4 linked regions of the Homo sapiens genome follow. The protein of the gene in region 2 purifies or fractionates together with the protein of the main gene of each other region. This does not show direct contact. Each region holds a gene or a part of one and is shown on either strand. Other genes may lie near its edges.

Region 1 (3,500 bases), on a different chromosome or scaffold from region 2:
GCAGGATACGCAAGAGAGTGAGGAAGAAGAAGGTGAGCAGAAGGGCAGCCAAGGTGACACCTAGAGCCACGTATGTCAGTGTCTTCAGTGGCAGGATCTCCCCATTCTGCAGAGTAGGTGGCAGGGGGCCAGGGAATTAGGAAGGGCAGGACCTGAGCACCCAGCCCCGTGCCCTGGGTGCCCACCCACGGCTCTGCAGCTGCCCCTGTGGGCCCGACCTCCCGCCGAGAAACGTCCATGAGCACAGCGAAGCTCGTCATGTGGTTGCACTGGCAGCTGACGTGGCTCTCATTGCGGAAGACGACTTCACAGCCTCTGGCCGACCAGCCACCTGTGCCACTGACCCTGTGTGAGGAAGGCAGGGTCAGGGAGACAAGGAGGGTGAGGCATGCAGGGGCCTGGACTTTCAGCCCGAAGCCTGAGGGGGCGAGGGCAGTGCAGGCTCACAGGATTGAATGGTTCCAGAAGACACAGATGGGCTTGGTCCGCTCCTCTGTCTCCAGCAGGCGGAACTGCACCGTGACGGGTTTGTCCAGGGCCCGGGGCAGAAGCTCCTCATCATCATGGACGCTGATGCTCACCACGGGTGTGTTGATGATCGGGCGTTTGGGGACTCTGATGTGGGGCAGTCAGGTGCACAGTCACCACGGCAGTCACATGACTGGGGAGACGCCCCCGACCCCCTCCATGCCTCAGCACTCACCGCCCGACCCATACCCCTACCCACACCTGTCCCCTAGCTGCTGACCTCAAGCTGCGCTTGTCAGGGTCATAGTTATGAGGCAGTAGCCCGGCCAGGGTGCGGTAGATGATGACGCTGGCCACAGCCTCACCCTGGCTCAGCTCCGGGTGCCGTCGCTGTCGCCGTGCCAGCTCCTCTGGCTCCTGGGCCTCTCCGGGGCCTGCGGGCCTGACCACGGGGGGCGTCTCTGGGAGGGGACACTGTCACACTTAGCTGGGCCCTGCTCTCTGTGGAGTCTGCACAGACACTGGGGTCCAGCTCCCAACTCAATCCATGGCCACCACTGACCTCTGAAGACAGACTCAGGCAGAATGACTGTTGTCTCAAGGTCCGGGGGCTGCTCCCCACGCAGGGCCTCGTAGCGGGGCAGCTTGGCCCCAGCAAAGTTCCCTTTGTCCAAGCGCACTACGGAGATGACTAAGGAAGGGGATGGTCACAGATCGGACCTGTGAGGCAGGCAGGACCCCAGCACAGCCGCTCTTGTCGGGGACTCCCTCCACAAACCCCTCCCCAACCCAGGCACCAGCCTTACCAATGTTGGGCGTGACGATGGTGAAGGGGCTTAGGTAGGTGTGCCGCATGTTCTGGGCCAGGGCACTGGCGTAGGCCTCATAGTGCTGGAGCAGCCAGGCGGTGCCACCCTCTGTCTGCTGGATCAGCTCCCAGTGCCGCTTGTTGGCTGTGTCCAGGAGGGCGCTGCCCACCCGCAGCAGATTCTGGGGTGGGCAAGGTCACGGTGGGTGTGCTCACAACCCACACCTGACATCCCCACCATGGAGCCCCGGCCTGTGCCCGGGCCAGTCCCTGCTCCCCACCAGGCCCCTCCCTCTGTGCTCACTGTTGCCTCCCCTGAAATGCTCCTGGACCGCACTGCCCACTCAGGTCACTGGATGCTCTGCCCCTAAGCCCTCCTCCTCATTCTCTACATAAGAGCTTCCCAGCCCTGTGCCTGGACCCACACACATGTCCTGAGATACTGCTTCCTCCCAGCCCATGGTACCACAGGCAGGCCTCTGCTCTGGGTCAGACCATGCCCCAACACACATATGTTACTATGAGAAGGGTTGGGAAGAGGGCTGGGCCAGGGGTCACAGGGTTTCATGGAGGCCTCCTGCCAGCAGGGAGCTCCTTGTAGGTGGGATGGGAGGGCCCCCTCTGCCCCCCAGGTTGCCATGAGCAGGCTCACTCACCATGACCCCTATCTAACCAGCCAGCCCTGCATCCTCCAAGCCCCACCTCAGTGAAGTGCACGTCCTGTGTGGCAGACAGCCCAAAGCCCCGCTGGGTGCTCTCGTGGGCCAGCAGCCGCGTGGCCAGCTGGTAGGCCACCTTGACGTCGCTGCCGAAGTAGCCAGCTGTGTGCTGCGTGGCGTTGCGCAGGAGCAGGGCTAGCTGCTGGGAGCGCCCTGAGTCTAGGCCTGACTCATTCCGCTGTAGCCGCTCAGCCTAGACAGGACGGAGCGGAGGAGCAGGAGTGAGGGCAGGAACTCTGGAGCAAAAGGACCTCAGGAGGTGAGAGACGGCCTCTCCAGCTGGGAGCCCAGGAACACACAGGCTGGAATTCCAGAAGCCCCGTTCTCAAAGATGGGAGTGGGGGCAAGTGAGACTCAGGACGAAGGACAGGGAAAAGATGGAGATGAGGGGGTTCACTTACGAAGCCCTTCAGTTCTGAGAAGGTGATGGACGTGCAGTTGAAGAGGTTTGGGGGGAGCCACCCCCTGTGCTCATCACAGTGGCGCACAGCAGTCCCTGGGGGAAGGAAGCCAAAAGGGCCGGCCTCAGGGAGACACACAGGAAGCCCCTGAGACTGGCTGAGAGGTTCTGCTGGAGGCCAGCACCTCATGGGCCGGGGACAGTAACTAGCAAACAAGGGCCCTGGTGAAACAGGAAGACAGGTATGTAGAACACCAGGGCCAAAAATCTCCGCAAGATCAGTCCACACATGGGCTCTAGGGGAACAGGGCATACGACCTCCTTGAGCCCCCATCCTGCCTGTCTCCAGCCACCACTTTGTGCTCTCCGCCACTTCCTGCCTATGAACCTGCTCATTGCCAGTCCAGGACCAGCGCCAGCCCCCATCCTGGGCTGGGTGTCCTGGGTCAGCAGCCAACACCCCCTACTCCCCAGACTGTCTGCCTTTGTGGTGGCGTAACTCCAGGACTCGGTGGTGAGCTGACGATTGGAACCCTGCATGATTCATCTTTGAATCTCTAGCACAGCCCTATGCCAAGCACAGTGCAGGTTTTTCAGCATTTTTGTTAAGAGTCCAAGATGTGGGCTGGGCACGGTGGCTCACGCCTGTAATCTCGGCACTTTGGGAGGCCGAGGCGGGCTGATCACAAGGTCAAGAGATCGAGACCATCCTGGCCAACATGGTGAAACCCTGTCTCTACTAAAAAAATATAAAAAATTAGCTGGGCATGGTAGCACACGCCTGTAGTACCAGCTACTCGGAAGGCTGAGGTAGGAGAATCGCTTGAACCTGTGAGGTGGAGGTTGCAGAGAGCCGAGATCATGCCACTGCATTGTAGCCTGATGACAGAGCGAGACTCCGTCTCAAAAAAAAAAAAAAAAAGTCCAAAATGTGGTGGGGTGCAGTGGCTCACGCCTGTAATCCCAGCACTTTGGGAGGCCGAGGCAGGCGGATCATGAGGTCAGGAGTTCGAGACCAGACTGGCCAACATGGTGAAACCCTGTCTCTACTAAAAATACAAAAAAAAAAAAAAAAAAAAAAAAATTAGCCAGGTGTGGTGGCGGC
Region 2 (3,500 bases):
CAAGGACAGATGTAGGCAGCGTCCCACTGATATCATCTAGAAGAGAGAACAAAAGCAAGAGGTTCAGAAATGTGAGCACAGAATGAGCACGCTGAAGGCAGAGGAGAGGGAGAAGGACTATCAGGCTGCCCTCTGGGGCAGGATGGCCCAACCTTCACCCAGTCTTTTTGCACAGAGGGCAACAATCATCTTACTCTGTTTTGCTTTTGGAAAGCAGGGTAGTAAGGATATTCCTAATGCAGCCCAATAGCAGTGGGTTCAAGGCAAGATAAATGTAAACTGAATTAATATATGTATAGTAAGTATTACAGCATGCGGGTGAGACCCATTTAATTGCTTAGGGAGATGACGGGGTGCTGAGAAAGAGCTGGGAAATAATTGAGTCATCATCGGAAACCCAGAAGCGTGGTCGGCCCCCAGCAAAGAACAAGTCCCTGGAGCTCACCCTCCCACTAGGCAAGAAGGTGGAGAGGGGAAGAAACTATACCTAGGAGGCTGAGGCTTCTTCTCGGAGGAGGAGGGGGAGTTGGAGGGTGTGGAGAGGTCAGGCCCCGCTGAGAAATGTCCACATCCACAAGCGACACAGTTTCACCTGAGGGATTCATGGAGCAAGCAAGTTACAGAAGCGCCTTGCCCAAAGCTGATGCAGAAAGCAAAGGGAAGCAAAGGGCAAGCAGGCGAGGCTGGGGGTCTGCTGCTCTCAGAAAGCTCAAAACCTAATGCCCCCAGGGCTGAAATCACCCCAACACCAGGAAGTCAATTTTTAAATTCTATCATTCCTTTGCCCTGTTAAGGGTCAAGGATTCTTTAGGACAAAACCATGGGACTGACAGTGGAAAAACCATCTAATTCTGGTTCCGCCACTGACTTACAACGTACCCTCAAACAAGGGGTCTTCTTTATCCAATAGAACCCATACCATTTATTTTTTCAGAATTGTGTATCAATTTCTGCCTTAGGAAGCAAGCCAAGTGGCTTGTTATATGCCCAAACAGACATGGAAAGCAAGGGCCAGAAAACCTAAGAACTGTACGGTAAGCTGAATGCAGATAAAGTTCCCAATGTTAGTCCTAACTTCTTCCTAGAGGGCAGTCCATATCTTGATTTTCCAGAGTATTCACACATAAGAGAATCTACCTGAATAAGATATCTGTTCTTAACAGCTGAGGCTACAAAGGCTGAAAGTACAATTTATAGTCCTAAAAATTAACTACTTTCACAGTCAGACAAAAGTCAGGTAATCTAAGAGGCAGCTTCTCCATAGGAACTTGGTGGGAGGAGGCACATGGCCTCTCTTCTTCCCAGCATGTCATGCAGTTCTGTTCCCTGCCATATACAATACTCCTTGCCACCCAACTCTGTCTATTCCCTCTCCACTTGAGTCACGAGAGGATGAAAGGTATTTTATTAATATGAACACAAGCTGATAGCCAGGAATACGGTTATTTTGGCAGGCCTGATGCACAAGTCAGAACTCAGGATTTCTCTAATTTAGCCCTTACGGTGTTCCTTCCAACACCTTTTTTTTTAATTCAGGGCTGAATGAGCCCCTCAGCTAGTATTTTAAATGTTTCCCCGTTAAGAAAATGAGGTGACCAATATCTACCAAAGGAAACTGGGCTTTCAGAACCTAAATACACAGTTTTTTTACAAAGCTCTTGAATACTAATTAAGATAAACAGAAAAGCTCTTCTAAAAGTCATCAGTGAGACCAGGTGCAGTGGGTCACACCTGTAATTCCAACACTTTGGGAGGCCAAGGTAGGCGAATCACTTGCACTCAGGAGTTCAAGACCAGCCTGGGCAACACGTTAAGACCCCGTCTCTACAAAAATATAAAAATTATTCAGGTATGGTGGTGCATGCCTATAGTCCCAGCTATTCTGGAGGCTGAGGTGGGAGGATCGTTTGGGCCTAGGAGGTCGAGGCTGCAGTAAGCTGAGACTGCACCATTGCACTCCAGCCTGGGAGACAAAGTGAGGCCCTGTGTCAAAAATAAACAAAAGCCATCAGTGGAAGTTCTAGAAAGCTGGTACCAGACTCACCATACAGCTTGGTAACTGAAAGCCTGGCTGCCCAGAGCAATGCGATGGAGCCAGACAAGTGTATTTCCTGACAGGCCAGAGCAGTCTAGACTATTGGTAGAGCACTTAACATAAAGGACGTCATTCAAGAGGGCTGAGGCTGACCTGAACCTCAAACTACAAATGTAGGTGGTGTTCCTTTTTTTTTTTTGAGACAGAGGCTCAGTCGCTCAGGCTGGAGTGCAGTGGCAAAATCTCTGCTTACTGCAACCTCAGCCTCTCGGGTTCAAGCGATTCTCCTGCCTCGGCCTCCCGAGTAGCTGGACTACAGGCGTGCGGCACCATGCCCCAGCTAATTTTTTGTATTTTTAGTAGAGACGGGGTTTCACACCATGTTGGCCAGGCTGGTCTGAAACACCTGACCTCAGATGATCTGCTCACTTCAACCTCCCAAAGTGCTGGGATTATAGGCATGAGCCACCGTGACCGTGACCAAGCCATGTTCCTTACTTTAATGAGGAAACAACTATTAACTAGAAAGACATGGTATCGCAAGATAAGATTTTTTAATTCTGGGCTTGGGTAAGAACAGAGACCTCCTTCTCCACTACAGTAGATGCCTATACAGGTACCAATTCACTTGTTTTGACAGTTCACAGCAGTCTACCCAGCTGCAAGTCTCATTGGCCTGCTTAACATTTTCCTGGAAGCATCCATTCCCAAATCGTAAGTCTTCCAATCACCTTTTTGAGGGACATGATATCCAAAGGAGTTTGAGATTGGGATTTTTTTTAAAGGCTTCTCAGTCACAACCAATGAGAAGTACTCAGTTTCTGAGACATGGGCAAAGCCCCACTTTTCTCCAGCTTATTCATGCAGGAGCTTCACCTGTGACTGACATAACAGAAGGTCTCCCTCTCTGAAAAAGCTCCCTACGAAACGAGAAGGCAGTTACCCATCATCCAAAGGAGATTCTACAGCCTTCCTAGTTTAGCAACTGTGTTCCCTGCTGCAAGAGGGCAGACTTAAATTAGATACAATAAAGAAGTCTAACAGCTGCAGGAACTGCAAGCCCCTAAAAAGACAAGAGCTCATGTAATCCCCTTTGCCCAAAAAAGTCTTTAAAAATAGACCAGATAATCATGGATCATTTTTATGAGATAACCCATGAACTCCCTTGGAAGCAGAGACAGAAATTGTATGACTTCTAGAGAGTCTTTTATGCACTGTGAGCCCATAAATTTGTAATTCCTAGTTTTAATTTATATGTGATGACCCTGAACTAAGCACTGCATAACTGCTAGGGCCACCCAGGCCACCTAATTACCAACAAGCAGCCTTTACCTCCAACTATAAAGCATCCAAAGTCAAGAACACATTCCATACCATAAAAATAGCCTCACCCCAAACCCACTAAGCATGGAATGAAGGAAATAACTGCAGACACGCCTACAGCTCCCTGTGATGCATCTGTAAG
Region 3 (3,500 bases), on a different chromosome or scaffold from region 2:
AGATTCTCCTGTCTCAGTCTCCTGAGTAGCTGGGATTACAGGCACCCACCACCACACCTGGCTAATTTTTATATTTTTAGTAGAGATACGGTTTCACCATGTTGGTCAGGCTGATCTTGAACTCCTGACCTTGTGATCCACTGGTCTCGGCCTCCCAAAATGCTGGGATTACAGGCATGAGCCACCGTGCCTGGCAATTTTTGTATTTTTTAGTAGAGACGGAGTTTCACTATATGTTGGCCAGGCAGGTCTCGAACTGCTGACCTCAGGTGATCTGCCTGCCTCAGCCTCCCAAAGTGCTGGGATTACAGGCGTGAGCCACCACTCCTGGCCCAGAAATTCTTAAACTTTAACATTTCCTCAACATCTCCATAAACTAGGTGGACATTTCTGTTTTTTCTCATTCTAGTTCCATCTTCTCCCTTTATTTTCCCCTCTGATGCCACTTCTCGTCAAAGCAGTACTGAGGGAGAAGGTCAAACTCTTTCATTTTATTATATATTTGAACAAAAACGTATTTCCAATATGTATACACTCTTGCATCTCTTTGAGAAATTTAATATACAAAATCTAAACTTAAAAAACAGATAAATGTAAGAGAGACAAATTGTTATTTACTTTATAAAAATAATTTGCCACATCTGTTTAAATAAAGAGTGTATTTTCCCTAGTTGAAAGCATTTAAGATGTGATTTGTTTTGAAAAATGTCATTTACACTCAATGTTTAAAAACATATCTATTGTATAAAGAACAATCTAGGTTTATTCACTTGGATTATTATAGTAACCACTGATGAGCTGTATGAAAGTGATAAATCTCAAAATACCTGCATCTCCCTCTTTCTCTTTGGATATGAGGTAAAATATGTTATTAATACTACCTATTTAACAAAAATATGCAGAATGTAAACTGAACACAACATGTGCACTGCTGAATACAACTTAGGAATAAAGTGATTATTGCAAGTTATTACACTTACAAAATGTACACTTCCAAATAAAAGAAGATTATCTAATTATCGTATAATTCAACAAGATCTAGGGAATTGATCTGGCAATATAATATGTTTTGTCTTACATTTCCCATTCAATTGTTCAATTGCCTAGATTGCCCAATTTCCTCATTGTAGCAGTTGTCTTCTGAATATAAATATAAGTCCCATTGTTAATCCAGGGACTTCCAAGCAGATGATGTCACTTCAGTTCACCATCTTACTGACTTAGGATCACACATACATTACGACTTATACCTATTTAGCTGAACATCACTCAGGTGAGGAAGCTAACTTTTGAAGGGTCAGACACCACATTTATTTAATATGCTCCATGAAAAAATTAGTCCAAGATAATAGTAGCACTCTTAGTATACTTTGCCAACAATGACACGGGCCTGAAGAACCCAGCACATGCCACCAAAACGACCAACGATGTAATGTGTACTTAGTTCAACCAGACTGTGAATGATCTGCTATGTCTACAGGAAAGATGGAACGCTAGATTACTTTAAATAGCTCTGACTTAGAGAACATACCTATGAAGATGAGGAATTAAAAAATCTTATAAAGTAGCTGTTCACATTAGTACCAGTATAGGAGACAGCCAAAATCTAAGTTATAAACAGGTAATGAAAAATCCTCAAGGACTAACTGAACCATGTTTCTCCCTACCTCACTTGTCAACATTCCCAAGTTCTCTCTTTACTAACTGCAGTTCTTTCAGGCACTTATAATCATCAAATGCAGTTCAAAAAGAAATATATCCAACAACAAGAATATTAAAAAAGAATTTCAGTCTTCTGTATGATTAGAAACTGTTTCAGCCCAACAGTCAGGAATAAAAAGGATTTAAACTAATAAACCATTAACTGAAAAACTGAGAGAGATGTAGAGAAATGTGAATTTAAATGTAAATTCTGCCATCAGGTAAATATAATATAAAGCTAGTAGTTATAAAGAGGAAGTTACTCTAATTACTTCTAAGTTGCTAGGCCAAAAATTCCACAATAATAATTCTACCTCCCAATTGTTGTTTTTCAGAGGTACTGAGTTTTGCCTAGTGCTTTGGTGATGCTTCATAATGTTTACAAGACACCATGCGTCCACTCCATGGAAATAATCATCAATGAGAGAAGCAACATCATCCTAATCAGTTGCACAGTTAAACAAAAAAAAAAAAAAAAAAAAAAAAAACGACATCACTGAAGTCAAGAAGCACAAAATGACAAATGGTCAAGTTCCAACAGCTAAAAAGATCCAAGACATTATGAGCTTTTAATGAGTGAAACATGCCATGAGAAAGAGACCTTCTGTCAATAAATCCAAATCCTTGTTCACTAATTAAACCATCTTATACAGTGTCTGAATATGTAGACACCAGACTTCAACATTTCTTAATTATATTCAATTCCAGGCATATTTTTCCATTTAATTGACATTCTGAAATGCCTTTACAGTCCTATCAGATAGGTACCAAATTCTCAAGAGAGATTACCACACACTTCTGAATTCTTATTCATTTGATTGAAACTGTTATTAGCAAAGGTTTTTTTTTTAAGTGGAAAGTGTGGGAAAGATTCACACCCCATTCTATCCATAACATGGGCGATGTTAAAGTCATCTGCATTTGGCCCACTTTCATGTGTACATTTCTTTGCAGTGAAGTTCTCCATAGCCAGGCCAATCTGAGAAAACCCTAGCTGCAAAATCCACCCTAGCATGGGACGGTACCACATGAATCACATAACACACTGCTCACCCAATCACAACAGCAACTGCTATCATTAAGCCACCACTTAGAACCAACAGAGAATTTCAAACCACAATCAAAAATAGATTTCAGAGGTCCAAAATATTGATCACATAGACTTAAAAAATCAACAAAATGTCATGTGTGATAAATGCTCTAGGTTTCAAAAAAGACCAAGCTGATCCTGCTACCAAGATATAGCCTCATTTTGCTTTGAAAGAAAACACACACAGACTTACATAGAATTTATCTGACAAAAAAAAAAAACCCTGATATTTATACTGTCATTAAGCACATTTGTCACTAAATTTAATCTGTGTCATCTGGCATACTCTTAGATGTTTACAATTATCAAATAATGTTCAATGATATTTAGTAGCATTAATAATTTGGGGCTTATCTCAAAATATAAAACATCAATAGCTGCTCCAGAGTGCTCACTTTTTGACCTTCCATGGTACTGAAAAGGCTACAATTTTTTTCAGATTGTTTGGAATTTAATTTAGTTGAAGTCCTGAAGTTACAATTAAACTTCCACTTAACCTTTCATAACTGTGCCTCATTCAACAGCTGGGCTTATCTCCAACATCTCAAAAAAGAAAAGAAAGAAAGAATTAACTGAAATATTATTTGCAACTGCTCTGAAAAGTACAAGTAGGATCAAGTCATAGAGAACGTCCAAGGTAAAAGTCTGCCTTTTCACTCACATTCTGGAAGCTAATGTTACTTTGTAAGCCATTTTTTACAAATTTTTT
Region 4 (3,473 bases), 3.9 Mb from region 2:
AGTCTCCCTCCTGCTCACATCACCTTGTGTTCTCAGCTGGGATGAGATTTCCCAAGGACCCCCAATAAACACCAGCTGATGAATCCTGCCTGAGGGTCACTGAGACCCCTGGCTTGAATCCCATTCCTTCTGGTTCTTTTTCTGGCCATCTGATTTCCCTCTCCCTGCTCCCACCCCTGTCAAAGAATGAGAATCAACAAGCAAACCCAACCAATGGATTTGGGGCAGCTGGAAGAAGAGAGACTTCTCCCTTTTGCTGCCTGCACTCCACTCGGGGGAAGGTTTGTGAGCAGGGTGTGGAGAGCAGCTGGTGAGGTGGGGAGCGGAGCACTATCTGTGGGCTCGAATGATCCCGGCCACTCCCTACAGTGCTGCCACCCCTTCCTCCGAGGGTGCAGAAGTGAGAATCCATGCAGCTTTCACTTTGCAGAGAAGAGAGCTGGGACGGGTTTCTCGTTCCCTCTCCTCATTTGTGAGCCCTGAAATCCTCTCCACCACCCCATGGGCCAAAACCCACAGGGGACATGGCCCCTAGGCTCCTCCTGGGGAAGTCCCCACGGCGCAGCCCAAGGCTTTGTCTATGGGCTGGGGAAGAGCCCGGGGGAGTCAGCCGGCAGGGTCCTGGGGCAGTACCCACCCAGCACAGGAGTGTAGTACTTGGAGAAGACCTCATCCTTGGGGCGGTCAGGAAACACATAGATGAGATAGCTCAGGTCCCCCAGCCGGTCAGCCAGGGACCTGATGGAGAAATCCCGCGTGGTGAATGGTTTCAGGTTCCACAGGTTGCGTTCCGCTGTGAAAAGAACAGCCTCATTCCCATAATCCACCAGCAGCAGGAGGACCAAGGTTGTGGGGCTTTAGGGCAGGCTTGCAAGAGAAATCTGGGCTTTTATATAGTAGCTTGCGCTGCAGCCCCAGCCTGTAGGGAAGAAAGCCGATGCGGGATGTTCTACTCAGCAAACCAGATGAGCAGATACCAACAAGGCTGGGTCGTGGCAGAGAGGGGAGAGCGTGAAACTGCAGGAGGACTCGCCCAGCCGTCCTGGAGTCTATGGGGCTGGGGACTTCAGGTTCTCCAAAATGGAAAACAATAGAAAGAGAATACATTTCCAAGCCACAGCCCTCTCATACTAAGCTTCCCGCTGGGTACCTTCTAAGGACACAGGCCCGATGGAGGGTGGGGTGGCGGGGCAAGGGAACAAGAGACCGGGCCTTGGGGCTGGAGTGTGGGCAAAACGGGCACTCACGGGAGTCAAACTTCCAGGCGATGGTGATGCCCCCGATTTCTGAGTCACTAAAGCGCAACAAGAAGGTCCCGTCGGGCTTGTTGATGAGCAGGTCGTGGGCCTGTTGCTTATTCACAAAACCTAGGATGGCCCTGGGTGCACGGAGCATTGAGCGTCACCACTGGGCCACAGCCACAGTCTCTCTGCGCCCACAGCTGGCCCCTGACCCTGCAGCCCCCGTTCCTTACCCATCATTCCAGTGGGGCTTGTGGTGCTTCTTCAACACCTCCATCACCCCGTCAAACCACTGCCAGAAGGTGTAGTTCCAGCCCGGCAAGTTCTCCTGAGGGCCCAGGAACCCCCGAGTCAGGGCTGGTGCCCCAGGTCACAGGTGGCCCAGGAAAGTCAGGGCCCTCCTGCCCCCACCCAGTCTTCTCCCAGTTCTTCACCCCTGCTTGCCACCACACTCCAGCAGACCATAAAGTGACACAGCCCCCAACTTGTACCCTAGGAAAACAGAGAGGAAACTCACTTCTAAGACACAGGGGTCCAAGACCAGCCCAAGGGTGGGAGTAAGAGGTGTAAAGAATAATCTAGGCTGGATGGGGCCTCCAAAGTCATTCCTCCAAAGTCATCCCCTCATTTTACAGGTGGGGAAACTGAGGCACAGAGAATGGATGGGTCTTCAAAAATTAGCAAGGAGAGAGGCAGAAGGAGAGCCAGAGCCACAGGCGTGGTGGCTCACGCCTGTAATCCCAGCACTTTGGGAGGCCGAGGTGGGCGGATCACCTGAGGTCAGGAGTTCGAGACCAGCCTGACCAACATGGTGAAACCCCATCTCTACTAAAAATACAAAAATTAGCCCAGCATGGTGGCAGGCACCTATAATTCCAGCTACTCAGGAGGCTGAGGCACGAGAATCACTTGAACCCGGGAGGCAGAGGTTACAGTAAGCTGAAATCACGCCACTGCACTCCAGCCTGGGTGACAGAATGAGATTCTGTCTCTAAAAAAAAAAAAGAAAATTAGCAAACACATCTAGGCCCAGAACCCAAGGATCCTGACTCCCAGCCCTGGGCCCTCCGTCATCTCGCTCTTGGCTTCACAACTAAGCACAACTCCTATAGCCCCTGCCTGCATTTCTTGAGGCTAGGGGCCCCCATCTCTCCTGGTTGTAGGAGAGAGTGGTTGGGGGTGGAGAGTGGGGTGCTAGCCCCAGGCAGTAACCTGTCTGTGAGGTGGAGGAGCAACAGACCCCGGTGGGCCCTGGTGGGCGGCTGGCAGCTGGGCCCCTCACCCTGTTGAACTGGGACCAGGACACGGACAGGCCACTGTAGTCCTCCAGGTGGCTGCTGCTGTTGTTGAACAGTTTCTGCGCCAGGAACACGAGGTTCTCCTTGGTCAGGCCCCGGTTGCTCTGCACTTCGGCCTTGAATTTCATGTTGAGCGCCTCACACAGCTGCGGCCACAGCACTTTGTCAGGCACGGCAAATGGCACCCTGCCCTGAGAGGGAGACAAGAGAGGGGAAAAGGTAGATTGAGGGAGTTGGAAATATTCACACACACACAAGATACACAGACACCTAGAGACAGAGGAGACTGAGACAGATCCAGAAAGGTGACACAAATGCAAGGGCAGGAAATGCGGCGGCTTTTATATACTAGCTTGCACTTTTTTTCCCAGCCTGCAGGGAAGAAAACCGATGCAGGGGGTGGGGGCATGCAGGGACAGAGATGCAGACCAGGAAACAGAAAACAGAGAGCAAGGACCCAAGCCATCTGCCAAAGGAGGATCCCAGACCAGGATCCAAAGACCAAGCTCACAGTCCTCACAGACCCCAGTCCAGGAACCTGGAACCCAGAGTGCCAAGGCCATGGTGGAAGGCAGGCGCCCAGCACCCCAGCCCTTCTGGCCTCACCTCACCTCTGGGCTGGCCCTGGGGTGAGGAAGGACCACTCAGCAGGGGCCCAAGGGGTGGGGCTGACCCCAGGTGAGTCCTAGGGCCTGGGGGTGCTGGGGTAGGGCTCCCACGGGGACTCACCGGCTCAGCAAAGGCATTGTCCCACAGCACAGTAGCCGTGGCATTGTGGTCCTGGCTGCCGTGGACGATGACAACCACAGGTAGGGACAGAGTCTACAGGAGTCAAAGGAACCCAAGTTGATGGGGCGTGACCACCACGTGCCCTCTGCTTAGGCAACATGCCCAATCTGCTTTATTTTTTTTTATGTATTTTTTTTTTTGATAT

What was found. Proteins that work in one complex are often made in the same cells at the same time.
Region 1: the proteins of SOCS7 (region 2) and CELSR2 purify together in Homo sapiens (affinity purification with mass spectrometry; one large-scale study listed by BioGRID and IntAct). This does not show direct contact.
Region 3: the proteins of SOCS7 (region 2) and FAT3 purify together in Homo sapiens (affinity purification with mass spectrometry; one large-scale study listed by BioGRID and IntAct). This does not show direct contact.
Region 4: the proteins of SOCS7 (region 2) and STAT5A purify together in Homo sapiens (affinity purification with western blotting, with the first as the bait; one study listed by BioGRID). This does not show direct contact.

The regions. Positions count from the first base shown.
Region 1 is NC_000001.11:109,266,539-109,270,038, reverse strand, and holds part of CELSR2 (cadherin EGF LAG seven-pass G-type receptor 2 precursor), read right to left. Parts: intron 2,492-3,500; coding exon 2,397-2,491; intron 2,189-2,396; coding exon 1,979-2,188; intron 1,459-1,978; coding exon 1,275-1,458; intron 1,160-1,274; coding exon 1,031-1,159; intron 930-1,030; coding exon 749-929; intron 616-748; coding exon 448-615; intron 346-447; coding exon 219-345; intron 107-218; coding exon 1-106. UniProt on the Homo sapiens protein: Receptor that may have an important role in cell/cell signaling during nervous system formation.
Region 2 is NC_000017.11:38,361,844-38,365,343, reverse strand, and holds part of SOCS7 (suppressor of cytokine signaling 7), read right to left. Parts: intron 593-3,500; coding exon 488-592; intron 37-487; coding exon 1-36. UniProt on the Homo sapiens protein: Substrate-recognition component of a cullin-5-RING E3 ubiquitin-protein ligase complex (ECS complex, also named CRL5 complex), which mediates the ubiquitination and subsequent proteasomal degradation of target proteins, such as DAB1 and IRS1.
Region 3 is NC_000011.10:92,231,318-92,234,817, reverse strand, and holds part of FAT3 (protocadherin Fat 3 isoform 1 precursor), read right to left. Parts: intron 1-3,500.
Region 4 is NC_000017.11:42,305,498-42,308,970, reverse strand, and holds part of STAT5A (signal transducer and activator of transcription 5A), read right to left. Parts: intron 3,362-3,473; coding exon 3,269-3,361; intron 2,731-3,268; coding exon 2,524-2,730; intron 1,570-2,523; coding exon 1,475-1,569; intron 1,379-1,474; coding exon 1,248-1,378; intron 794-1,247; coding exon 638-793; intron 1-637. UniProt on the Homo sapiens protein: Carries out a dual function: signal transduction and activation of transcription. Mediates cellular responses to the cytokine KITLG/SCF and other growth factors. Mediates cellular responses to ERBB4.